Regions from separate parts of the Homo sapiens genome. Here region 1 is reported to be linked to region 2. Evidence: microRNA targets listed by miRTarBase, many of them from high-throughput screens and not tested one by one. Region 2 holds a microRNA gene; the other region holds the end of a gene's coding sequence.
Evidence for each region. Region 2 holds the annotated microRNA hsa-miR-450a-5p (UUUUGCGAUGUGUUCCUAAUAU, at 3,494-3,515, shown strand). A microRNA usually pairs through its seed, bases 2 to 8, with sites in the 3' UTR of a target mRNA and lowers its output. Matches are read on the target gene's strand: a 7mer-m8 pairs with bases 2 to 8, a 7mer-A1 pairs with bases 2 to 7 and ends in A, and an 8mer does both.

Region 1 (5,000 bases), not on the chromosome of region 2:
GATGAGGCAGGAGAATCACTTGAACCCAGGAGATGGAGGTTGCAGTGAGCCGAGATCACGCCACTGCACTCCAGCCTGGTGACAGAGCGAGACTCTCTCAAAAAAAAGAAAAGAAAAAGAAAAGAAAATGAACACAACTACTACAGAGTGATTCCTGCTATCCACTAAAATAAATAAGAATTAAAATTCAGTGTGATTTCCATTCATCCACAGATAAAAAGCACCTCATCTTAAGAAGACAATTATCTATTTCTTTCCAAGGCTGTGAGGACTGCTTTGTTTATTTGACTTTTAATTTTAATATGGCACAACAAGCTTGATCAGTAAAAGCAATATCATTAAAAATGTTTAGAATGTTCCTTACAGACCCTTTCTGCTTCACTTCATGAATGAGGGTATCATATATTTAACATTTAAAACATTATGACACAATAAATACCTTTTAAAGGTATGTGGCAAAATAAAAATATACTCTGATTCGAGCTGGTGTTTGGAAAAAATAAAAATATACATTAAACAATGAAGTCTCGGCTGGGCACAGTGGCTCACACCTGTAATCTCAGCACTTTGCGAGGCCGAGGTGGGTGGATCACTTGAGGTCAGGAGTTCGAGACCAGCCTGGCCAACATGGTGAAACCCCATCTCTACTAAAAATACAAAAAAATTAGCCGAGCCTTGTGGTTGCACACCTGTAATCCCAGCTACACAGGAAGCTGAGGCAGGAGAATCGCTTGTACCCAGGAAGTGGAGGTTGCAGTGAGCTGAGACCAGCCTGGGTGACAACAGTGAAACTCTATCTCGAAAAAAAAAAAAAAAACACACACACAATGAAGTCTCTTCTTTCCTTTATGATGGAGAAATGATCATATTCATTCTATTTTTTTCTTTTTACCATCTTAACTCCCGAGGAAAAACGTTTTATATTTTTATTATCAATGTTATAAATCCAATTCTAAGACTTTGCACACAAAAAATACCAAGGGAGATAGTATAATATCTCAAGCTTGTATTTTCCTGAAATTATTGGGAAAAAGTAGAACTAGACTTAAGTAGATAACAGGAAAATACAGTATTATGGTGTTTGTATACAAAAAATAATCCAAAACAGATAAAAACACACGCTCAAGATGGCACCCACATTATTCCAGAATAAAGTTATTTACATATATACAAACGATTATATGACTAAATAAATGAACATTTTCCTAAAACATGCATATTGTGAAGCCTTTTATAATTAAACCTATAAAATCAAACTAAATTGCATATTATCAACTGTCATGATTACAGCTTTCTGCACACCAGGAGAGTTAACATTTTAACATCTGTTCTACAAAACTGAAGATAAAATGTCATCAAACTCAGCATTTCTCTAGAAAATTTTATATACCTCAGCAACCTGTCATACTGCCTGTCGTCAAATAAATGGACTCTAAAATGTACTTATTCTTTTCAGAAAAAAATTTTTTTTGTAGAGAGGGGGGTCTTGCTATGTTGTCCAGGCTGGTCTTGAACTCCTGGCCTCAAGTGATCCTCTGGCCTCAGCCTCCCAAAGCACTGGGATTACAGTTGTCAACCACCACGCCAGGTCTCTTTTCTAAAACTTTAATTTCCACTATTGCTCTTTTGAAACCATTTTAATCAAGTCACATTTCTTAGAAAAAATTCACTCAGGGTTCTGAAGGAATTAGTTATTTTCTACAAGCAACTCTGTCATGAGTGATAGAGTTGTAGCTCTCTTAGAAGTTTTTTTCCTCTTTCAAAGAGAATGAGAAATATGCAGAGATTTCCTTACTGACTCACTAAATGTAAAGATTAAGAGGACATAATAAAATTTTGGACTACAGTAGCATATAGGTTTTCAGTTTATTTACTACTAACTAGCTATAACTTAGACAAGTCATTTAACATGCTGTGCTTTAGTTTCATCTTTGAAACAAAGAGATTCGAACAGAAATCTCTTAAGCTTCCTTCCAACTCTTACATGGTATGATTCTGTGCTTCTGCAGGAATTCTTAATTGATAAACTGAATCTTCCATAAATCAAGAGAACTGATGTGTACTAAAATAGCACAGCTGAACTAAACCTTTCCTTGTTAGGAAAAAAACACAAAGACCATGTTCAAAGCTTAACTTTCCAAACCTTACTAGACCCATTCCCTCTTCAGCCAACCAAAGAATAGCCCATAGAGTTAAAACCAAATATTTTAATTATATAAATTACTTTTAAAGTATAATGTAAACCCATTAAAATATATTAACTCTATGCCAGTTTTCCTACACTCTAATTTACAGTATTTTCATTTTATCTACATTCAAGATAATATGTACAGTTAAGGAAGGGGCTATTTAATATTCTTGCACTTCTAAACACTAGTAAAAGTTAAATAAAACACAGACGAAGAACAGAATATTAACAATTATCATATTGTGCCAAATTTTTAATGAAAGTATGCTGAGTACTATTTGTGGGCTAAAGAAACAAGGCAAAGGTAAAAAAGGAAATCCTGCTAACAAGTGCTGATGATCAAATGAATTTAGTTGTGTTTTTCCATAACTTAAAAAAGACAGGAGGGAGAGGATTTTAGCAGAAATCTATTTAGGTAATACTGAATCATGACATTCCAGCAGCTTTTATGAAAAACTAATGTATAAAGTAGTATTTTGGTACTAGTGCAGTGGAAATTGGTTTTTCTTTGTCTAACTATGGACAGCAAGTGAGGCACTTAACTTTAAAATAGAAAAATAGGGTATATTTAAGAAGACATTCAAAATCATTCAGAAAAGATAATTAGCACTATTGAAAAAAAGTTAGAAATTCCATTTTTATTTAACATGCATTCAATGTTACACATGTTTCACTAAGGAAAATCCTTCTGAAAGTAAGATTACTCTTTTATTTATAAGAAACAGAAAATATTTCCTTTTCAAGGGATTCTGGATTTCTAAGAATAAAATCCAAGTCGTCTCAACCTGAGTGCTACGTATTTATAAACTGAGAAAAATACGTCTTACCATACAGGAAAAATGTTATGACTATCAACAAATACCATGAGCTGGGAGCAGTGGCTCTTGCTTATAATCCCAGATACTCGGGAGGCTGAAGTGGGAGATCACTTGAGCCAGGAGTTCGAGGTTATAGTGAACTATGATCATGGCACCGCACCAACAGAGCCAGCCTCCATCTCTTTAAAAAACAATAACAACAAATGCCACGTACCATGTGATCCTCAACTTTATCCTTGAAGGATCAGATGCTTTTATTTTACATAACTTCAGAGAAGGGCACCTAATGACTACAACAGAATAATAGATATTTAGCACCTAAATTTAGAGATGCTTAAGTATTGCCATAGTTTTAAATAGCTGTATGTCTGTAAGTTGAGGGAAACCAAATACATGTTGTTAAACGATATTATCCTTAATTACAAATGCATCTACCTACAATATTCAAACACAATCTTATTTCTCCCTGAAGTTGCAGACATATATATATATATATATATCCCTTTTAACAAGTAAAGTGAGGTTTATTATTTCTTCACCATCATTAAATTGTCTTCCAAATGTGGAACTTTTTCAGGTTAGACAAAAAGTAGTTCCTAAAAAGTCATTCATATTCGACCAGTAGTATTACTTTAAATGTTCTTCACTATGGGACAGAGGTCAAAATTGAAGTGAATGGCCACGGACCTTCTGCTGAAATATATAAGTAAAAATAAGCAGGAACAGAGGAGATGAACATACATTAATTTCTGACAACATGTTGGCACAAAAATGCTTACCTATAGGGTGAAAAAGCACTTAATGAGAGGATAAATATTTGCCATGAGAGTATTTCAAGTGAATGGAGACTAGTGTTTCCTTTCTTCATATCTAAGTGAAATATTCTTGTGTTGCCTAAGTAAACTTGACTTTAATCCTGGATAGAACACTTTACTTCATATGTTAAAACTGATGCATGACATTAACTGAAGTTTTCCATGAGACAATTTAATCATCCCCATTGAGAAATCTTATAATCCTACCTTTTCTTCCTTAATTTGCTTATAGAAAGGCTTTCCTTGACTCCGAAAGGAGGAAAAAAGGCTTTAAAAAAACATTTTACACCAGGGAGACTGGCAAATTTCAATAATTCACAATCCTCATATTTCTCATTTATATTTGCTTTATCAAATTTCATTCCTTGCTATATAATTAATTTTCTCAGACACAGAAGGGCCAAAATTCTCTTATTTATATATTTAAGGTAATTTTTTCTATTTTCTTTAATATATTCTAGCTTATTTTTGAAAGTAAATGAGTACATGAAAGAAACAGGAACATTGTTGATGCAATTCAGTTAAGAAATAAAGTGCATATAGCTTTCAATATAAATAGTTTGGTACCTTACAGCTAAGTAAAAAGCTAACAAAATCAAAATGAAAACTCAGCTCAATATCTAGAATCTGAAAAATATAAGACATGAATACAAATTCTATATAAGTAGTAACAAAATTAGGGGTAGGGAGTATTTCCCTCCAAAAAAAAGCAAAGGCAACTGAAAGTATTTTTAAGAAAAGTTAAGTGGATATCTGCCTCCCAAAAGACATGCTACACAGTAACACCAACATGCAATAGCTGAAATGTAGAATCACATTCTGGCTGCTGCCCCTGAACTTCTGCATTTAATTTAGAATTCTCTTGTGTCTGGCTAATTTCACCTTGCAAAGGAGGAGATATGCCATGACTCTCATCTACAGAAGCACCGTCAGACAATGTATCTAACTGTACTGGGAAACAAGCAATGTGAAGTTTGCTATCTCTTGTCTCTGTATCAAAATTGGTCCTCTCATCAGCATCTTCCAGCTGTTGAACTGAAGTTAAATACTGTTCAAGCAGACTATTGTCCTGCTCGTTATTTGAGCTTTCCTTATTCCATTCACCATGTTCTTCACTAACATCCCCTAAATCTGATTCTTTGCCATATCTGACTGTGTCAATGGAATTCCCCATTATGG
Region 2 (5,178 bases):
CGGTAAGTTGTGAGACAAGATACCCAGGTTGTTTGATAAACCAGAATTGAACATAATTTTTTAAAAATTTAAATCACAGGAATGTTTTTCTTGAAGGCATCCAGCATCTCCAGTTAGCAGTACTGATTTTTTTTCCCCCCAACAAAGGAACACTACATCAACACTGTTGGCGGGGACCTGGACACAGAAGACTCCTGTTTCAAGAAAATACAATCATCTCTCAAAGGCTGTAATTTATATGCATTTTAAAACTCTAGGCATTGAAAACCACCCAAGTGTCCCAAATAGAAGGGTAATATATAATCAATCACTCAGTGTAATATTATACATCCTTTAAAAATGTTATTGGGAAATGTTTTATGATCTGTAAGTCCAAGGAATCCTCTCCCACCATTTCTTTCCCCCCGCTGTTCCCCCATACCCACACTTCTTTGTTCCAATTGGCATGTAAATTTGGTTTTCCCGCCAAATGAGTCAGTCATGATGGGAACCTCAACTGATTTGAACAGATGTGTGTCAATGTTACTTGGAAAACTAGATGTCAATAACCAGGGTCACAGAAAAAGGCAGTGGTCACAACTCTGTAAAAATGTATGCATGCACACAGACAAGAACTAAAGTGGAACCCCACACAGGAAAACAGTGGGCTGTACTCCAGTGCTGGGACATTGAATGACTGTATGCTGCTTTTGATTTCCGTTAATATGGGCAACTGTCCAATTAAAAAAAAAACTCCTAAGGACTCTGCAGTGCAAATTGTTTTGCTGATTGTTTTAAAACACCATACCTATCAACTCATCAAGGCAAATGGGGCAGCGGGGGACTGGGTTCGTTCCCTGAATCCTGGACTGCTATAGAGCTCAGGGCAACATTTGCAGAAAACCTGAGCCTATGAGATGGGAGTTATAGGCAGCTTTCCTGAGGCTGTGTAAGATGAAAATAAAACTAGGTTCAAAAAATATGTTTGGGGAAGATCAATGAGTTTATCGATAGAAGTTAAAAGACTTGAGTCTGGCTATATGCAAGTTGGCATATGTTTTTAGAGATCTTTTTTCCCATTGGCCTGCAGTATGACTTAATCTCATAACCCTAGAATTTTATATATGCATTTGTATTTAGAGTTATTACATGACTCTTAAGCAAAAAAGAGTATATATACATCAAGTGTAGCAAACGTGTATCTCCCTGCCCCCCTACATCCCACTCAGGCCCACCCATTAGTTACTCCTCAGTGAATAAACAAGGATCGGCTAGCTCTTTCATAATATTTCACCTATCTGCCACCTTTTCCCTCCTCCCCAGCTCCACAGCTGATCTCTTTGGCAAGTTCAGCCAGGCTTAAAACCCCTGTGGGGATAGTAAATTGAGCCAAGAGGGAGGAGCCCCGAAAGACTTCCACTTCCTGTGGTTGCTTGGGCCTTTGAGCACTCCCCCTTCCACTACTGAGCTCTATAATCTGAGCAGTTGGTGGGTGTTTGGAAACATGGCCTTGGCTCCACTGCTGGAGTCAGGGAGCTCAGAACACTGCAGCAACCTGCCAGTGAGAGTCTGGGTTGCTTTGAAGCCTGAGTCTCCCAAGGCAGCTCCCTCACCTGTTCCCCCATGTCCACCCCCACCTGCCATCCAGACAAGACTATTACCCTAAGACCAGACCTTCTAAAGGCGTGGCCACAGAATCATCAGTATCCCAACATCTTGCCTTTGTATCGTGTGTTTACATACTTTTCCAAATACTTTGTTTTTTCTTTTTTTTCTTTTTTTAATTTGTGACAACCTTGAAAGACAAACAGAGTTAAGGCAGTCCAAAAAATAATTACAGACAAGAAAACTGGGGCCTCTGGAGGTTAAGGATTTGTCTGAGGCTACTCTCTGGGGGCTCTTCCTCCAGGCCTCATACTGTGTTCCTTATGTCATTACCTGTTCATCAGAACCGACTATGCAGTAGTGACCAGAGCAGGAAATGGAGGTGAATGTGTTTGGTTACAAAAATTCCCGGTGAAACTGGCTAGTCTTATGATGAGCTTTGGCCTATACATTGGACACTTCCTGGGTGAGGCCCAAGATTGGCCCCAGGATTACTAAATAGTGACTATAAGTTACCCAGCCGTGTACAAGTCAATCTGCACAAACCAAAAAAGCATGATTTAAATTCATTTTAAACCTCTGTCCCATGTTTGTTATTTTCTGTAGATTCAATCAAATTATCTTAAGGAAACAAATGAAGTGTCAAGCTATAGGGGTTGACTTAATCTAGTCACTCACTCAATGGAACCTTTTTCAGCCATTGCAAATAATAATGATAGAGAATATACAGAAACCTGGAAAATGCTTATGATATCAACTTAAAAAAAATCAGGGCCACAAAATCACATGGACACCATGATTGAAAAATAGGAGCAGAACCTGGAGGAAACCTGCAAAACAGACATACTTGTTACTTAAGGGTGGTGGGATTAGAGCTGAAGTTTCTTCTTTCTCTACTTTTTCATGGTTTTGTGTGTGTGTGTGTGTGTGTGTGTGTGTGTGTGTGTGTGTGTGTGTGAGATGCCACGTTTTCTTGTTATGTTGTCAAAATATAATTCTCTAAAAAGTCTTTAGGGGTCATGGGTGATACAGAAATTTGGGATCGGTCAAGGATGCACAGATCTCAGACATCTCGGGGATCATCATGTCACGAGATACCAGTGTGCACTTGTGACAGATTGATAACTGAAAGGTCTGGGAGCCACTCATCTTCATAGCAAAACATGTGGTAAGTATTACAAGACGAATCAATGAAAAGATCAGGAGGAAAGTGGGCCCTAAGCAAAGAAGAAAGGGGTTGCTATGGGATGGGGTGGGAGGATGAGTTGTGTTTTCATAGGAGTGTAATGGGAATGCCTTTATTTGTGTCTTTATTGCTTTAAATGTTTGTTGAATGAATTGAAACTTACATAAGGTATATGATTTTATACTTGTGCTAGAATGCTAAAATAAAGAATTTATGCTCAAGCAAACAACTGGAAAACACTTTGCTATAAGCATTACAGACACAGGGTCATTTTTAGTATGTTGAGTCCACACAAGTGGTCAAGAAAAACCATAAAAACTACATGAACAGAAAGCCCCAGTTAAAAAAAATGCATAAAGATGCTCATTTCAATATTTTAAGGATGGAAGTTAGGAACATCCTGAATGACCAACAACAAAGGATTAGACAAATAAAATACAGCGTAGCTAGCTAGTACAATAGAATAGGATGCTTTCATGTAAAATAATGTTTCTGAAAGTAATTTTCATGTCATGAGAATGTGCTCCTGATAAAACATTTAGCGATTGAAAAAAGGTGCAAAATATTTTCCCATCTCTGCAATATAGGTATATAGGGAGCATTCTGTATGAATAGTTTTGTATCAACATACAGATAAAAGGCTAGGAGGAAACATATAAAAACTTTATTGTGATTATCTCTGAGTTGTGGTATAAAGGTGACCAAAGAAAGATGCTAAACTATTTTTGCGATGTGTTCCTAATATGTAATATAAATGTATTGGGGACATTTTGCATTCATAGTTTTGTATCAATAATATGGGGAAAAGAGGCTATCAGGAAGTATACCAAAAGTCTAGAGGTGGTTATCGCTGACTTGTGTCACTATAGGCAATCAAAAACGATACTAAACTGTTTTTGCGATGTGTTCCTAATATGCACTATAAATATATTGGGAACATTTTGCATGTATAGTTTTGTATCAATATACAGATGAAAAGATGGAGGGAATAAGCAAAAAATCTAACAGCGGCTATCTGTGGTTTACTTCTGTGATAAATGTAAGATGCAGAATTATTTTTGCAATATGTTCCTGAATATGTAATATAAGTGTATTGGGATCATTTTGCATCCATAGTTTTGTATCAACATATGGAGAAAAGTCTAGGAAGAAATATACCAAAACTTGTAACAGTATTATAGTATAAAATTATAGGTAATGTTTGTTTTTCTCTTTATACTTTTATGTATTTTCCAAGTAATATTTGCATAAACAATAAAATGCATTGCTTTTATAGCAATAATAAAACATTTTATTTTTAAAAAGAGTTTGTATTTTTTTTAAAGCATGAACCCCTGACATAAGGGTGGGGGAAGACTTCCTATTTGGCCAGCAGTGGGCCTAGAATACTTTTTCAAACATATCTGGGAAACCTTTGTACAACTTCAGTTGGATCTGCAGTGCAAATGTGTTTTCATTTGCTCTTGGCAAAGAAAAGAGAAAGTATAACTAAAAAATATAACCACGACAGAGTTATAATAGTAATATTAGTAAACAAACTGCTATCTATGTCTAATCAAAGTAACATTTAAAGAAGTATAGAAAGCTGAAACAGGCTCCTTTTCCTCTAGTAGCAATTCAGGAAGGTGGTACTTGGATGCTCGCCCAGGGCCTCAAGACGCATTGGCCAGTTTGAGATATGCCCAAGTCAGGAAAACACCTTATTTAGGTTATTTCCACTCAGCCAACTTCTTGCAGATGCGGGTAAAGCCCCCCCTGCATTTTCCCGCAAATTCAGCTGAGCTCCATAGTAACTCTGGTGTTGCAGAACACATGTGACACCTCAATTTAGGCGATCCTTGTTCTGGTAAGAGATGGAACCATTTGGTCACGTACCTGGCCCATGGTCTGAAGGGCACCTACCAAGGTTTTAGCGTTCCTCAGTGGCACTGATTTGGACAGAGACACATTACAGGAGGATCTAAGTTCCTTCCTATCTTTTTAGTAGCATTTTGGGAAACTGTTCCCCCACCAAGGACATATTTGGCACTCTAGCAAGTCCATATGACTAGACATTACTTTCTTTTTTTTTTTTTTTTTTTTGAGACGGAGTCTGGCTGGCTCTGTCACCCTGGCTGGAGTGCAATGGTGCGATCTCAGCTCACTGCAAGCTCTGCCTCCCAGGTTCAAGCGATTCTCCTGCCTCAGCCTCCCAAGTAGCTGGGATTACAGGTGCCCGCCACCTTGCCTGGCTAATTTTTTTGTATTTTTAGTAGAGACGGGTTTCACTGTGTTAGCCAGGATGGTCTCGATCTCCTGATCTCGTGATCTGCCCACCTTGGCCTCCCAAAGTGCTGGGATTACAGGCGTGAGCCACCGTGCCCGGCCGACATTACTTTCAAAATAGATCCATCATATTCCTTAAAGGA

Region 1: the mRNA of CEP97 is a reported target of hsa-miR-450a-5p. Seed matches in the 3' UTR shown: 7mer-m8 at 567-573.

What each region holds. Positions count from the first base shown.
Region 1 is chr3:101,765,145-101,770,144 of GRCh38, reverse strand. CEP97 (centrosomal protein 97) reads right to left here. Exons shown (of 11, transcript NM_024548.4): 11 at 1-5,000. The coding sequence ends at 4,594. Among named protein-coding and RNA genes, the nearest start is that of NXPE3, 12 kb to the left of the region's middle. RefSeq lists an enhancer at 517-596.
Region 2 is chrX:134,538,901-134,544,078 of GRCh38, reverse strand. MIR450A2 (microRNA 450a-2) reads left to right here and starts at 3,472; the gene lies at 3,472-3,571. It overlaps MIR450B (microRNA 450b), which reads left to right and starts at 3,817; the gene lies at 3,817-3,894. It overlaps MIR450A1 (microRNA 450a-1), which reads left to right and starts at 3,648; the gene lies at 3,648-3,738. It overlaps MIR542 (microRNA 542), which reads left to right and starts at 2,642; the gene lies at 2,642-2,738. It also overlaps MIR503HG.